Homo sapiens: one gene and its partner. The protein of the gene in region 2 interacts with the protein of the main gene of each other region in a biochemical or structural test. Each region holds a gene or a part of one and is shown on either strand. Other genes may lie near its edges.

Region 1 (8,175 bases), on a different chromosome or scaffold from region 2:
AGTCTCAAACATAATCTGCAAAGCAATCCAAAGAGCTGAGTTAGTGAAGGTGCCCATCTGACAAAGAATGGTCAGGAGAGCACACCTGGTTGATGGATGCAGAGGGGCCTGACCTGTTCTGGGCAGAGGAGGCCAAAGTAAGGAGGTTCAGAACAGCCCTGGTCACGTTAAAGAGGAGAAATGAAGGTGTGAATGGGGAGCCATCACATCAATGGCCTGACAGGGTGGGGAGGGGAAGAAACAGTGTGCACACAAGGTTTGGCCAGGGGAAAGGAAAGTCCAGCTTCTGGCTCTGGTCCTGGCTTTGACTAATAGTCACCAAACTAATAGTTGATTAATAGTGGCTTTATTCCAGGTCTCTTAACAGAGGAGGAGTTTGGACTAAATGAGATCTCCCATTTTTCCAGTGCAGACATCCTAGGGCTTGTTAACTATGTCAAAGCCAGAAGAAAAAGAGAAGACAACATCCAGGTTTTGATTTCCCTGGTATAAAGAAAGAGAACTTTTAAATCTGAAGCTCAGGCTGGCTAGGTTTAGCCCCATTTCTGTGATTTGTCTGAGGTTCTATTTAATCTATTCCACTTTTTTATGTAGTTACTGGGTCAATGCTAACCCTAGAATCTGAGGCCATTCTGGTTGCAGTGGGAGAGGCCCTGGTTCCTGGAAGACAGGACCAGCCCAATGGTAATAGAGGACCACATAGAATGTCAGTGCCCCAGTTGGTGCAGTCCAGGGACAAGATTAGAACCAAGCCCCTCCAGGTCACTTGTGAGAAGTTTGTGCATCAGGAGATGTCCGTGGGTCTTCATTTCTCCATCTGTAAGACCCTTCCTACTCTATTAACCAGAATGTCTGACATCATTTGCTAGCAAGCCATAATTTCCAACCATTTTTTTTTTTTTGCCTTCACACCACTGACAGGAACAATAATTCATCAGAAGCAACATCTCTTGCGACGTGCAGTGATTCCCAGGCCCACAGATGTTCCCCTGTAGAGAACAAGTGCTAGTGGGTTGGTGCAAGCACCAGGAGCTCTTCTGAGGAAAAGGCCTTGCAGTTATTTACATTTATGATTCTTCAATGCTGGAAGATCGTGGATCAATCCCAGGCTTTGCCAGTTCTAGCTGTGTGACCCTGGGAGAATTACTTAATGTATCTGAGCCTCAATTTCTTCATTTATGTAGTCAATATAATCATAGTTCCTGCTTCACATTGCTAGAACTTAAAGAGACAATGAATGTAAAATGCTGAGCCCAGTACTTGACCATAACAAGTATAGAATTGACACTAGACGTTGTTATTTAATAGCTCTTCCAAACTAGAAAACTCAGAGCTCTGTCTGGTGGGCTGGATGGGATTCTATTGTGAGGTCTTTAGCTTCAAACAAGTAATAATAATGACAATAGTAAGTACTATATTTTGGATGTTTATTAGGAACCATGATACACATCTGTCATTTCACCTCATTAATGTTCACATCAATCCTTGGAAAAATGATAGTATTAATATTACTCCCAACTTATAGACAAGGAAACTGAGGCTCTGAGAAATTAACGGAGTTCTTTAAGGTCACATAACTGATAAGTGGCAGATCCAGTTTTCAAACCTAGATATGTCTGACTCTGGAACCCAAATTCCTATTGTATGTGATGCTGCATTTTGAAGTGACTTCTCCTTAGACATTATAACTTAAACGTGGCCCCTTCTCAGTGAAATCTTTTAAATTTCCTATTGCTTTTGGAGGCAAAGGGCTGGTCCCTGCAGGAAGGATGCAAGTACTTTCAAGCTGTTCCTGTCCTTTGGGATCCCTGAGTTCACTGAAGGCTGTTAGTCTGTTGGTGGACTCCTAGCTCCGGCCTTCTCTCTGCTGTGCTGCATAGCCTCCTTCTAACAGAAGTTTCCCCAGACCCCACAGTGTTGTGTGCTGGGGTAGCATACTTACTTGAGTCATTTTCTCCCGGTTGGCCTTGGGGTTCAGGGGTGCCTCCGTGAGCAGGGTGGGATGCTCTTCAGGGGCAACACGAAGCTCATTGTAGAAAGAGTGGTGCCAGATCTAGTGAGTTGGGGGACAGAGGAGAAACACAATGATGTGCTGTCATGAGGTCCTGCATTTCCCAAAAAGGGACCAGAAGCTACTTGAAACCAAGACCAAAGGAAATGCTACAAGTACTCATGCATGTGTCCATGGTTTTATAGATGCAGAGACTGAAGCTCAAAGTGTGTAAGTACCTTCCCAAAGGATTCACATCTACTAAGTGACTGAGCAGAATCCCTAACCCAGATCTGTGAGGCAGGATGGTATGGCAGTTAAGGGCACAACCCTTGATCAAACCTTGGGTTCAAAGCCCAGCTCGGACACTTCTTAGTTGTGTGAGCTTAGGCAAGTTTTTAACCCTTCTCAGCTTCAGTCTCATGATTGGTAATAGGGAGATGAAAATAATTAGTGTGTACCTCATCGGGTCTTTGTGTAAATAAATAAGGTAACCCTCGAGTTATTGTCCAGCCCAGTGTCTGGTCCAGAATCAATGTTATTATTATTCAACTCTATTTTCTTTGTTCTCTCTTCCCATTTTAATGTTCATGGGAAAATGATTTAATTTTGTAAATAAAAAGACAAATGAATGTATATATGAATAAATGACGCTTACTTGAAAACCTAATTGACACTTTTAATGCTTCTAGAGAAGTTGCCCTTTGCAGTGTACATGAAGAAGAGAACAGGGCTCTCTGACTCTTGCCTCCATCACCCTCTTTGCTCTCGAGGGATGAGAAAAGCTTCCTCTATCAGCACACTCTGGATCTTCCACTCACAGTCAGACATTTGGCCTTCAGGTGTTTCCAAAAGGCCCACGCCTGTGTATAGTGTGTCTATGTGAAGGTACTTTGGACATAACTACATTTATTTATGGTTGAGCACTTTCTTTAATTCCTAGATGCCGAAAAGAACAAACCATTGCAAAAAGGACTAAATTAATTAATCTTTAAAAGCACGAAAATTCTCCACCAGAGCCAGGAATATGAGATTCACTCAAAATCAAAACAGAGCAAAACAAGAACTGCTGGTGAAAGCTTACAAATTAGCAAAACCAAGATTAGCTTTAAAGACTATCTTATTCCACTTTCTTTTGTTTTGGATTTGTGGTTTATAGAAGGGAAATGAAACTTCTGAAAGTTTTGTTTCTTTAGTGGAGTGAAAGCAGCAGACTGCTCAAAAAATCCTGCCAGTCACAGCAAGCAACCTTTCTCCTCTCTCTCTCTTCGTCCCCACCAGAAGATACTTTGAATTTAAATTTTAGAAATAAGGAAAGTTTTTTCTTCCAATAGTCTCTGTCTAGGACGATACATTCTAAGATGTTGTCAGCTCCATGGAGAAATTCTAAAAGAATATTTTCCTATTGATATTGATATCTTTTTCTCTGTGCAAACTGCAATCTTACCAAATCTAGAATCCTCAAGCAAACCTACTGATATGAAATTTTTGTAGAAAGATAGAGCTTGGAGCATTACTGCTGATAAATTCTAACAACATTATGTATTTTTCTTTTAAGTGATAAATTGTGTGCGTAGTAGTAGTAGTGAGCCGATAGATAAATAAAAGGCCAGATATCGTGATTCTGATATATCTTGCTGCATTTAAAATTTTTTATGTCACTTTCTCATTATTTCTTCTGTTTTTTTCTCTGATCACTGGTGTCTGTAATGTTTAATGACCAAACATCAAAATCTTAGAATTTAGCTCTTCTTCTCATTAGCTCTTTTATTAAGTGTCTGGGAGATAAGGCCTCATGTAATGCAACACAGATAAATAATTTTTAAAATATTTATCATATAGCTTTTTTCAGTGGCTCTTGTGCTTCAGTGTGTGGAGAGGCATTCAGAAATGTACCAAACCTGCAATGTTACACTCCTGTTTACTATAGTGAAAACAAAAACATTTTTAATTTAGATGTTTAGAGTGAGTTAATGAAAACCTTTCAAGAATGGGCTGTTTAAGACTACTCCCAGCATTTCAAGCCCCTTTAGCTATATTGCACTGAGAGGGATAACCATGCAGCCCCTGATGAAAATGAAAGGAGGGTTTTCATTCTCTGAGCTGCTGCTCATGCACTGCTTGTCCTAGGAGGGCAACAGAGTTGACGTGAGCAACAGATGATTAATTCCCTGCAGTGGCAAAGGGCTACTCTTCTCATCTACAGAACTATCATCCTTTAATTAGTTAATAAAACCTAATAGGCAAGGACATTTTTTTCCTTTTCTTTAGAGACAGAGTCTTGCTCTGTTGCCCAGGCTGGAGTGCAACAGCTGATGGTATGATCAGCTCACTGCAGCTTCGAACTCCTGGGCTCGAATGATGCTACCACCTCAGCCTCCTGAGTAGCTGGGACTACAGTTGCATGCCACCACACACTGTTAATTAAACCTTTTTTTTTTTTTTTTTTTCAGTAGAAACAGGGTTTTGCTATGTTGCTCAGGCTGGTCTCAAACTCCTGGCCTCAAGTGATCCAGTGCTGAGATTACAGGTGTGAGTCACTGTGCCCTGCAGGATTTTTTTCTTCTTTTTTTTGAGATAGGATCTCACTCTGTCACCTAGGCTGGAGTAGGATCTTGGCCCACTGCAGCCTCCATATCCCAGGCTCAAGTGATCCTCCCACCTCAATCTTTCAAGTAGCTGGGACTGAGGTGTGTGCCACCATGCCTGGCTAATTTCATTTATTTTTTGTAGAGACAGGATCTTACTATGTTACCCAGCCTGGTCTCAAACTCCTGGGCCAAGCGATCCTCCCACCTTGGCCTCCCAAAGTGTTGGGATTACACGTGTGAGCAACCATGCCTGGCAAGGGATTTTTTTTTAAAGAAACATTTTAGGATTTTTTTTTCTTTTTTTTTTAAATTTTATTATTATTATACTTTAAGTTTTAGGGTACATGTGCACAACGTGCAGGTTTGTTACATATGTATACATGTGCCATGTTGGTGTGCTGCACCCATTAACTCGTCATTTACATTAGGTATATCTCCTAATGCTATTCCTCCCCCTCCCCCCACCCCACAACAGTCCCCGGTGTGTGATGTTCCCCTTCCTGTGTCCATGTGTTCTCGTTGTTCAATTCCCACCTATGAGTGAGAACATGCGGTGTTTGGTTTTTTGTCCTTGCGACAGTTTGCTGAGGATGATGGTTTCCAGCTTCATCCATGTCCCTACAAAGGACATGAACTCATCATTTTTTATGGCTACAAGGATTTTTTTTTCAATGGGTAATAACCCAGAATGAACATTAACAAGTAAAAGTACAGTTGAGCAATGTGAGCCAGTTATTTCCCCAGCAGTAGTGTGGTGTTCTGTATCAGAGAACACAGGGATTATGCATCCTGAGGGCCCAAGCTGCAGCAAACCTCCCATACCTTTTCCATGTCGTCCCAGTTGGTGATGATGCCATGTTCTATCGGGTACTTCAGGGTCAGGATTCCTCTTTTGCTCTGTGCTTCGTCACCCACGTAGCTGTCTTTTTGTCCCATTCCCACCATCACCCCCTAAAAAGGTTCAACACATTATGAGTCAGCATCTCCCAAAACTTGTGAATCAATTACAGCCAAGCCACAAAAGGTTAAGTCATTGAGATGGGAAGTTCCTCTTCTGATTATCAGCAACAATAAACATATTGAGTCTCATTGCCACTATGCTCTTAAGCAAAATTCTGCAGTTGATTGGAAAAAGACCTGAATTGCCTCCAAATAACAGGAGATGTTGGGGGAAAGTCAACTTTACTTTGTATTTTTATCTCCTATGTTCCTTGATGAGCTTTTTTAGGGCAGAGATCATGTCTGTCTTGTCCATCACTATAGCAAATTGCATGGCACATATGTGGCACTCAATAATTATTTGTTGAAAGAATGTATACAATTTTACATATTTGTTAAATGGCATTTTGTGTCTTATAAATCCTTTAAACTGTACTTTTAAAGTCATCACCTACCCAAAAGAATATGAGCATTATTTTCTAACTATTATAAGCAAAAGCATTGCATCTACAAATAACCACTTGAGGCTTGATTTCTAATGGATAAGTTCATACCAATCAACTGTTAAGACATTTGCCTAAATTAGTCAGCTGCATTTAAAAAAAATCATTAAGGTGAAGTTCTTAAAAAATTATTGTTACTAGATTTTAAATTGCACTGCAGTGACTATTTTAGAACTACAAAACAGCCATGGCTACTATGGACCCATAAAATAGCGGCTTGTGCAGAATATCTCCACTGCATAAAGATCAATGAATTCAGACAGACTGCATTCATTGGGAGAGGTTTCTATTATTTATTCTCATGAATATATCCCAAGCAGAGAGGCATAAACATCAATCAGATAGCCTCAATGCACAAACTACATTTCTGATGTGAAGAAGAATTTCTGAGGTGAAATTACTGAGTTTTTACCATGTGATGCCACCAATACTTTGTTTACACATAATGTGTAAAATTACCATGCGGCTGTCCAAATATATTTTGTTGACAGGTAATATTATGTAAAATTGCATTTGGTATCGATGCTTGCTTTCATCTAACATCAGCCCTGTATGGTTAAGTGACCTGGACTTTTATTTTAGTTTCTTTCCAAACAGTAGCTTTGGTATACATCAGGATAATGTATAAGCATTTCTGATGGTGATGAAATGATTTGATGATGATGATGATGATGATAATGACTATATTTAGACAAAAAGGACATGAAAAAGGGGCAGACTTTGTATCTGATAGATGCCCATCAGATAATCTGTCTACATTATATGTGAAATTGGCATTTACTCCTGGACCTTAATCATTAGAGGTCTATTTGTAACAAGGTTACATAACTTCTGGGCAGAAAGAGATAGACAATCTGGGGATAAACATGAACACAGAGGAACCTAATCTGTGTCCTGTTATGTTCCAATCATAATTTTCCTCACCTGATGTCTGGGACGTCCCACAATGGATGGGAAAACAGCCCTGGGAGCATCGTCCCCAGCAAAGCCGGCCTTACAGAGCCCAGAGCCATTGTCACACACCAAGGCAGTGCTGTCCTCTTCTTCACACATAGCTGGAGCTGCTTCACAGGATTCTATAGAAAACAGGGAGGAAGCAGCCTCAGCTGTAATTGGGCATTTGTGGCACTTACCTGACAACTCCCACCTCCAAGGCTGGGTTTGGGGGCCCTCCTCTGTGTCCTAGTGCTATCCTCTGACCCTTATCTAATATAGCATGTATCTGGAAGTACTTTAGTTACACTATAAGCTTTCAGTAAGCTGAAACTCTGACTTCTGAAACTCTGACTTCTATGTTGATACAACCTTAGTGTAGTGACCGGCATATCATGTGTTCTCGTGAGCACTTTAAAGGTGGATAGAGCCAGTGAATGAATAAACAAACTGCAGAGCACAGATGGGAAATCCAGAGTCTGAGACCAGATCTTTGCAGAGACAAGTTGCCTACCTTATGTTAAAGAAGCATCTAGATTTTCCTGTCTGTATCAACCCAAATGCACATTTTTCTAGATATGCTATACCTTTTTGAAATTTTTTCAAAAAGCTAGATTTTTGAGGGACAGGCAGCATGTAAAAATTTAGAAATGTTAAAATGGTCAAGTGTTTAATGGAAAAATCTTTTTGAATCATGAGGACTTTTACTTTACCCTCAGAGAAGCTTTGAAATAAAATTTTCTGAGAAGGTGCTTTAAATTTTAGGGGCTGCAATTATCCACCGTTAATAAAAGTCACTGTTAAGCTAACAGTCCAACAAGTGAGGGTGAGCCTGATGGATTATATATCATATGGTAGAATACTTTACTGCCATTAAAAAGGTAGAGTAAGAGGATAAGCAAAAGGTAGTTCTTATGTAAGAGTAATAGGTTAGAAAAAGTAACATTGTAAATCTCATTAAAAATGTATTTTTTATGCATTGCAAAAAGATTAATCATATTTACCAAGATGTTGACTGAGGTTATTATGAAGTGGTGGGTTTTATAGGTGTTTTTAATTATTTTCCCATGGTTCTGTCATATTTTTTTAATTTTCTATATTGAATGTGTATTTCTTTGGTAATAAAACAAAATTTTAAATAACCCATTTTATACTTGGATCTTATACTTGGATCCTTTCATAAAATTAGAAAGGCTGGAGCAGCCTATCAACTTACAAA
Region 2 (8,057 bases):
CAGTGACCCACATACAATTTGGAGCTATATGCCTGGGTGCTGGGAGAAATGCAGAATTTATACAATTTGAAATATGAAGACACTAGCAAAGCTACAAGATCAACAGAAACTACTAAAAACCAGAGAAAGAAATGCTAATTTCATGTTTTCACTTGCTGCTCACTCTCTTCATCAACAAACTTTTTTATTAAGTAGTTAGCATGTGCCTTAGTTATTAAAGTAAGATCATTAGCAAAGGAAAGTTAGGCTATAAAGTATAAATCTAAATTTAGAATATAACCCTACAGTGATCAAAGTTAGCTAATAAGAGAGAAGGCAATTTGAAAATTTTAGTAGTGTTTTATAAATTGGTTGCAAGCCCCTGTTTAAACAGAGTCAAATTTCAGTAGCCCATGACAATGATGAACAACGTGGAAAATTTTGTATCATAAGTAAATCAAAGCAGGTGCTTCAACAGTTCAACTTATGTACATCTGTATCATACCTATGCATGTGCATGATACACACACACACACACACACACACACACACACACACACACGAAACCAGAACTGCCAAAAAGATGGGAAGGGAATGTATCTCACTTATGAGTATGTTATAGAAGAAAGATCTTCCACTTTTCCGGTGTAGAGCTCTGGGTTCAAATCCCAGCTCTGCCCCCTTCAAAGCAGTGTGACCCTTGGGCAAGTCACTTACCCTCTCTGAACCTCAGTTTCCTTATTTCTACAATGGGTGGGAGGTGAGGGTGTAGAGCACATTGCCAGCTTTGCGTGGTTCTTGTGAGTTACCACCTGGAATAAGCTGTCACGAGTGAAAGTGGAAAGTAACTTGGCCAGGTGCAGTGGGTCACACCTGTAATCCCAATACTTTGGAGGCCAAGGTGGGCGGATCACCTGAGGGCAGGAGTTCGAGACCAGCCTGGCCAACATGGCAAAACCCCGTCTCTACCAAAAATACAAAAAAATATTAGCCAGGCATGGTGCTGCCCACCTGTAATCCCAGCTACTCAGGAGGCTGAGGCAGGAGAATCGCTTGAACCTGGGAGGTGGAGGTTGTGGTGAGCCAAGATCAGGCCACTGCACTCTAGCCTGGAGGACATAGTGAGACTCCATCTTAAAAAAACAAGAAAGTAACTTGAACTTTCTTCTTTCCCTTAATTTTCTCTGCCCATCTCCCTCAGGCAGAAGCAATCAAGAAGCAGAATAGCTAAGAGGTAAAAATGGAAGGAAAAATAGTAGGCAAAAGAGACTGAAATGATGCACAAACTGGAGCTGGATGCCGCCTTTCTCTCCTCTGCCCTTTACCTCTGTCAGGAAGGTATGTGATGCAAATTTGAAGATTGTGGTTACTTTAAAAAATATATTTTTGGGTAAGCATGGGCACAAATATATATACATATGTGTGTATATATGTATATATGTGTGTATATACATATATATATATACACACATATATATATTGGTCCAGTGCTGTGGCACAAGCCTGTAATCCCAGCTACTTGGGAGGCTGAGGCAGGAGGATCACTTGAGTCCAGGAGTTCAAGTTTGAGGCCAGCCTGGAAAACAGAGTGAGTCTCTCTCTCTATTTATGTGTATATATGTATATGTGCATATGATAATCTTGTAATATGCTTTTAGTGGTCATTTTCCTTTATGCTAAACCATAAGTTGTTTAGTGACTCAAAGGAATCCCTTAGTAACAAACTTATTGGGATGGTTTGTATCTCATGAGAACATAGACACTGCACTGTGTATGTCATTCAGTAAGTGGCTAAAGTGCTAGGGCACAGTTACTATTAAACTGCCCTAAGAGAAAACATTTTTAAAAATAGAAGCATAGGGGAAAAAAGCCCACAGGGCTCTAATATAACTTCCTCTGTATTTGTGCTTTTTAGGAAGTTGTTCTAAGCCTCCTTTGAACCCTTATTAACTCTTATTAAGAAATAACAGTTTTATGATGGGTTGGCCTTCTCATCTGCGAGCCCTAATTTTGCAGGTTCACAGAAAATGCTACATCACAAAATCCTTTTTTAAAAAACTCTTCCCAGGGTCAAACTCCACAGCCAATCAAAATATTCCACCTTTTAACTTGAGGGAAATCGCTAAAGGAAAGGATAGCTTTAACTAGTGTGTCTTTTGGATTGGGGGACTCAAAGAGAGGTCTCCCCAAGTTCCACAAGACTTCGGACCACAGAAAACCCACCACCCATGCGTGTTTTTGATTCCTTGAGGACACATGCTGAGGTGGTTGGGAACGAAGTTTCACATCTACCTAAAAGATCATGACCAGGGATAGAGAGACGACCAAATTTGGGAGAGCAGTTACGGTGCAGTTACGGAGGCGGAAGGACGCTCTCAGTACCCCGTTTCCACACTTTCATTCTTAAAGGCATGCAACCCCTTTCTAAATAAATGTAGCTCCCCAGGTTTCCACTACCTGAAGAGAAACCCTCACAGCACACTCTGGAAATGTTTTACAATTCGTTTTAAATGCGTATTATTTCTAACTAAATCATTGAGGGACTCCTATGTATTTATTTATTTATTTATTTTGAACATTTTCAAACGGATGGGGAAGTTTTGCTTCCATGTTTCCATTTTTTTCCCCCCAAATTGGCATTAGGCACCAAAATCAGTTGAGGAACGAAGCATTCCTTAGCTAGAATTTAAAACTTAACAAGGGACTCTTCCCGAGCTTGGTAAAGAGAATACCATTTTAAAATTGCACTGTAGGATTTTTTTACCTTCAGACAAGAACACACCTAAAAGGAAAAAGGCCCTCCCCTCCTCCCGAAGCACAAAAACACAGCATATCCCAAGCAGCCCGTTTCCTACCCAGCCAATACAATAACGCTTTGTAAACTGAGAGCAGCGCCCGGTATAGAAGCTAAGTATAAACAGCTGAGAAGGATTAGGCGGTAGCGCTCTTCTCATTTACATGAAAATCCTCTAAGCATCGTTTTCCTCGCTGGCTGCGGGCGCATAAGGAACTCTTTTATGCCATAGCCACGCATACATTTCCATCCTTTGTCTTTACTTACCAGTCGAGGCTGTGGGCATGTGTGCTCTATTTCCTCCATGGTTTCTGAGGGAGGCTCATTGGAAAGGGATTTTGGGATACCTGTTTCTGACTCAGCATCAGTGGTAACTACTGGCATGGCCAGTGAATGCTCCCTCTAGCTCTACACCCTCAGAGAGTCTCCTCCCAGGCAGAGAATGTTTTCTTTGTCACGTATTTTTCTCCCCTCTACCCTCCACCCATCCCCCCGCTTCTTCTCCCCTTCTTTCTGTCTTCCCTAGGGGAAGTAAAGAGGTTACCCCCCGCCCCTCTCTCTCTCTCTCTCTCCCAGAAGCCAAGAGGCAAGGCCTCAGTTTATCACTATAACAACCAGACGACACTGAAGCGGCTGGTGCGGGATACAGTATCTCATTTGCATAGAGCGCGCTGGTTGGCTACTGTCATCATAGTACCACTCCGCCGGGAAGCGGCCGGGCCCCATTGGCTAGCCCTCCGTACCCACGGGCCCGAACTTGCTGCTTTTGTTTCTTCTGTTTAATTCAGTTGCAAAGGTCTCCGTCCTCTCTGGGCACGGGACCCGGGCTGCGCCACCCAGATAACATAAAACCGCTTCCTGAGGGGCCTAGGACGCCTTGAGAAACAACATAGCAGACCTCCACTAATAAAGGACCATGTCCCTGGGATGAGCTAGTGCATGATGTGCTGTAGTCAGGATATTTGCCAAATAGGAGTCACCCTGAAGACAAAGCCACTTTTGAGCCCAAATTCATTGTGCTAATTGCCAGTGGAGGGCCCCTCCGGGCATTCACTATGGGCACCTGAGTGTTCGACCCCTGGACTTCATGCAACGTGAACCCTGGCAGATCCCCTCGTGGCCTGGTGTAGCCCTGGAGCCCTCCCCTGGGGCTGCCCTAGGGGGAACTTTGAAGGAGGTAGATTGTCTTTAACAGCCTGCCTCCTACTCCTGGCTGCCCTTTCGCAGTTGCTTCCTCTGTCAGCCACTCTTCCCCTTCCCCAGCTATTCAAAGTTTCCTCAAGAAGTCTTGCTGTTGTGTGCCTTTCAATACACTGTTCCATGCACTGCTCTATTTTCTCTTGGTTCCTACTTTACCAGTCGTGGGTCCCATTTCCGAAGTACCCTGCTCTCAGCCAAATGCTCATGGCAATCAGAGATGGAATGTTAACGATCAGGTGCTTTAATGTCTACATTATCTAGGGACATTCACATTTTAAGAGGAGCATTCTGAAGACACACATCCAAAGAACTTACCAAGGTATTCATTGTGAATTGTCACTTTTAATATTAATAAAAAATCATGATGATCCCTGGCATTTATTAAGCACAAGCACGGTGCTAAGTACTTTACCTAGTTCTTGTTTAATCTTTGTGAGAACCCAAAGAGGTAGATCCTATTGTTATCCTCATTTTACAGGTATTCACATTCACAAAATTCTAAAATAATGCAGCTGGGATTTGAAGGAATTTTTTTTTTTTTTTTTTTTTTTTTTGCGAAGGGCGAGGTGGTGGGGGCGGGCGCGTAGGGACCAGGGATGCAGCAGGTGTAGTAAGAAAAGGATCTAGGCAGGAGTCCTCTTAGGACAAGTCCCTGGGCTTCTACATCTTTCATTTTTATCTACAGTAGTGGTTTTCATTCAAGTGTGGTCTGGGACCAGCAGCACCAACATCAGCATCACCAGGGAACTTGTTAGAAATGCGAATTATTGGCCCCCTGCCAGACCCCGGACCTGATTCAGTAAGTCTGGGGTGGGGTCAGAATTTGCTTTTCTAGAGAGTTTCTGGGTGTTGTTAATGCTGCAGGTCTGGGAACTATACTTTGAGAATCAGTAGCCCAAAGGATGGGATAAAAATACCGGGCTTGCCTCCATCACAGAAAGGAGATCAAATGAGATATCATGTCATTGCACTTTTTGAATTAGAACGTGCTATGCTAATATAAGGGGACATTATTTTTATTACTCCTCAATAAGCAAAGAGGGCTAGTCCTAAAAGAAGAAGAAAATGGATTCTGTAGCAGAGAATTACAGTTTGACAGTTTTAGATGCTGGCCCTTTAAGTCAGAATAACATCACTTAAGAGTATTATGACCTATACAGGACAGAACTCCAGTGTTGTGAGAATTCCAGTGATGCTTCCTACCCTATTTGCCCTCCTGGAAGCACAAAACACTTCCAGCAGCAGGTTTAACTCTACCAGCTCATCACCTGGAAGAGCCAAGCCCTGTGTTACATTTAGGAGCCCTTTTCCTACGTGTACTGGGTGACGTGCAAATGACATGGTTATTCTAATCTCAATATATGTATTTTTGCCTTAGAGCAGTGGTTCTCAAAGTGTACTTCTCCAAGAAGTGCAGCAGCAGCCCTGGTCACTTGTCAGAAATTCTGGATCCCCACCCCAGACCTACTGAATCAGAAATTCTGGCTTCCCACTCCAGACCTACTGAATCAAAACCTCCTGGTTTGGGAGGCATTCTGACCCACGCTAAAGTTTACAAACCACTACCTTAGAGTCACTGTTCACATTGGAAAGCACCTAAACCCCACTGTATTCTTGGCCACTGAGCCACCCCTTGGTTCCTAATTGGTCACCTAATTCTCTCTCCAGAATGAGAGGTTCACCTGTTCACCTGCTCATTTTAAAGAGTTCTGATGTCTAGCTGAGTCCTTGTGAACTCTTGTCCAAGAGCCTAGGCCATTCCTTTAGACTCCCAATATCTTCTGTCTCCCTTCCTCACCTTCTTCTCCTCCTAATCCTCCCCTGTCCCATTGAACCAAGATACTGCCTTTGCCTAGGATATCTTCATTGTATTACCCACATCAAATCCTTAGCTTTCAGTGCTACTTTGTGCTAAGTCCGTCACACCTGACACTTACTCATCCCAAGTCCTTGAACTTTGAAATTTAGACTTCTGTCTAACTGCCCTGAGGGTCAGCTCTATAACTAATTCCATTCCCACTAATTCTGCTCCAGCCTAGTCCTGGCTTCTTCCTGCTCCTCTCCCCACAGTCCTGTGATTGAATCTCAGCATGTCTTGCAGTCTTAATGGCAGAAATAGGCTCTTTCAGGCACCACTCTGAGAGGAGTCCTTAACAGATCCACCCACTTTGGAGACCAGTCCTGGCAGCTGCTACAACCTGACTCAGAAACTTCTTGATAATACTTGAGTGAGTTATTTTAACTTGGGGGCATTGTAATGCTATCAAGACAATTAGCTAAGAATGATCAGTTAATTCCACACTACAGAGCTAAATATTCCATAAGGGTTATGAAGGGGATGACTATGAAGGGATAGCAGGAGAGAGTTTATTGGGGTAATGGAATTATTATGTAGCTTTTTTTTTTTTTTTTTTTTTCAGACAGGATCTTACTCTGTTGCCAGGCTGGAATGCAGTGGTGCAATCTCAGCTCACTGCAACCTCTGTCTCCCAGGCTCAAGCGATCCTCCCACCTGAGCCTCCCAAGTATCTGGGACCACAGGTGTATGCCACCACTCCTGTCTAATCTTTCTATATTTTTGGTAGAGACAGGGTTTCACTGTGTTGCCCAGGCTGGTCTGGAACTTCTGGCCTCAAGTGATTCACCTTCCTCGGCCTCCCAAAGTGCTAGGATTATAGGCGTGAGCCACTGTGGCCGTCCAAGAATCATTATGTATCTTGATTATGGTAATGATTTCAAAAAATCCATGCATGTGTTAACTTCATTAGAAATTCCATAGAGGATATTTGTCAGTATATGCTAACAGCCTTTAGAATATTCATACCCTTTGACCTAGGGATTCCACTTGGTAATTTATCCCAAAAGAAATAGAGAAGCACACAAATAATTATGTACAAAGATGCTTAATGCAGAATTATTTATAAAAGGCAAAAAAGATACAACTTACAGCAATAGTAGGAATAGTTCAAATAAAAATAAGTCCATATAATATAGTATTGTACACTCACTAAGAGTCATGTTTTTGAAGAAATTCTAATGTTATGGGCACGTGTTAGCATTATAGTGTTAGAAAAGCAGGCTGCAAAATGTGATTCCAAAAACATGAGCCCAATTATGTCATATGTACATGCACAGAAAAAAGCATTGGAAGGAAATATATCAAGATGCTAAAAGTGAAATCTTTAAACTGTGGGGTTATGGAAGATTTTTGTTTTACTTTAAAACAAATTTTTCTGCCTTTAACAAATATTCAAGGCTGGGCGCGGTGGCTCACGCCTGTAATCCCAGCACTTTGGGAGGCTGAGGTGGGTGGATCATGAGGTCAAGAGATCGAGACCATCCTGGCCAAACAGTGAAACCCCGTCTATTTTAAAAATATAAAAATTAGCTGGGCGTGTTGGCAGGAATCTGTAGTCCCAGCTACTCTGGAGGCTGAGGCAGGAGAATCGCTTGAACCTCGGAGGCGGAGGTTGCAGTGAGCCGAGATCACGCCATTGCACTCCAGCCTGGGCAACAGAGCGAGATGCCATCTCAAAAAAAAAAAAAAAAAAATATATATATATATATATATATATATATATATATATATATATTCAAAAATGAGCATATATTATTCTTTTTTTTTTTGAGACAGGGTCTCACTCTGTTGCCCAGACTGGAGTGCAGTCACGTGATCACAGCAGCCTCGACCTCCCAGACTCAGGTGATCCTCCCACCTCAGCCTTCCAGGTAGCTGGGACTACAGGACACGCAACCACGCCTGGCTAATTTTTTGTAGAGATGGTGTTTCACCATGTTGCCCAGGCTGGTCTTGAACTCCTGAGCTCAAGCGATCTGCCTGCCTCGGCCTCCCAAATTGCTGAGATTACAAGCATGAGGCACCGCACCAACCCTATATTAGTCTTATAATTAGAAAAAAACAATGAACATTACTGTCCTCCCCAAAGTCATCAAGAGCTGGGTATTAGGGTTGGGGTGAGACAGGCATGGTTAGCTCATGAGCAAATAGAAAGATGCACAGACCTCAGTGAGAGGAAACAAAAAAGCTGAAACCGAGGAACAAAGCTGGAGCAAAGTCCTAAAG

What was found. Proteins that work in one complex are often made in the same cells at the same time.
Region 1: the proteins of PCYT1B (region 2) and ACTA2 are reported together in a solved structure, tested with the Homo sapiens proteins (one study listed by BioGRID).

What each region holds. Positions count from the first base shown.
Region 1 is NC_000010.11:88,941,855-88,950,029, forward strand, and holds part of ACTA2 (actin, aortic smooth muscle), read right to left. Parts: intron 7,100-8,175; 5' UTR 7,077-7,099; coding exon 6,948-7,076; intron 5,533-6,947; coding exon 5,404-5,532; intron 2,054-5,403; coding exon 1,943-2,053; intron 16-1,942; coding exon 1-15. UniProt on the Homo sapiens protein: Actins are highly conserved proteins that are involved in various types of cell motility and are ubiquitously expressed in all eukaryotic cells.
Region 2 is NC_000023.11:24,643,949-24,652,005, forward strand, and holds the start of PCYT1B (choline-phosphate cytidylyltransferase B), read right to left. Parts: upstream 3,400-8,057; 5' UTR 3,158-3,399; coding exon 3,041-3,157; intron 1-3,040.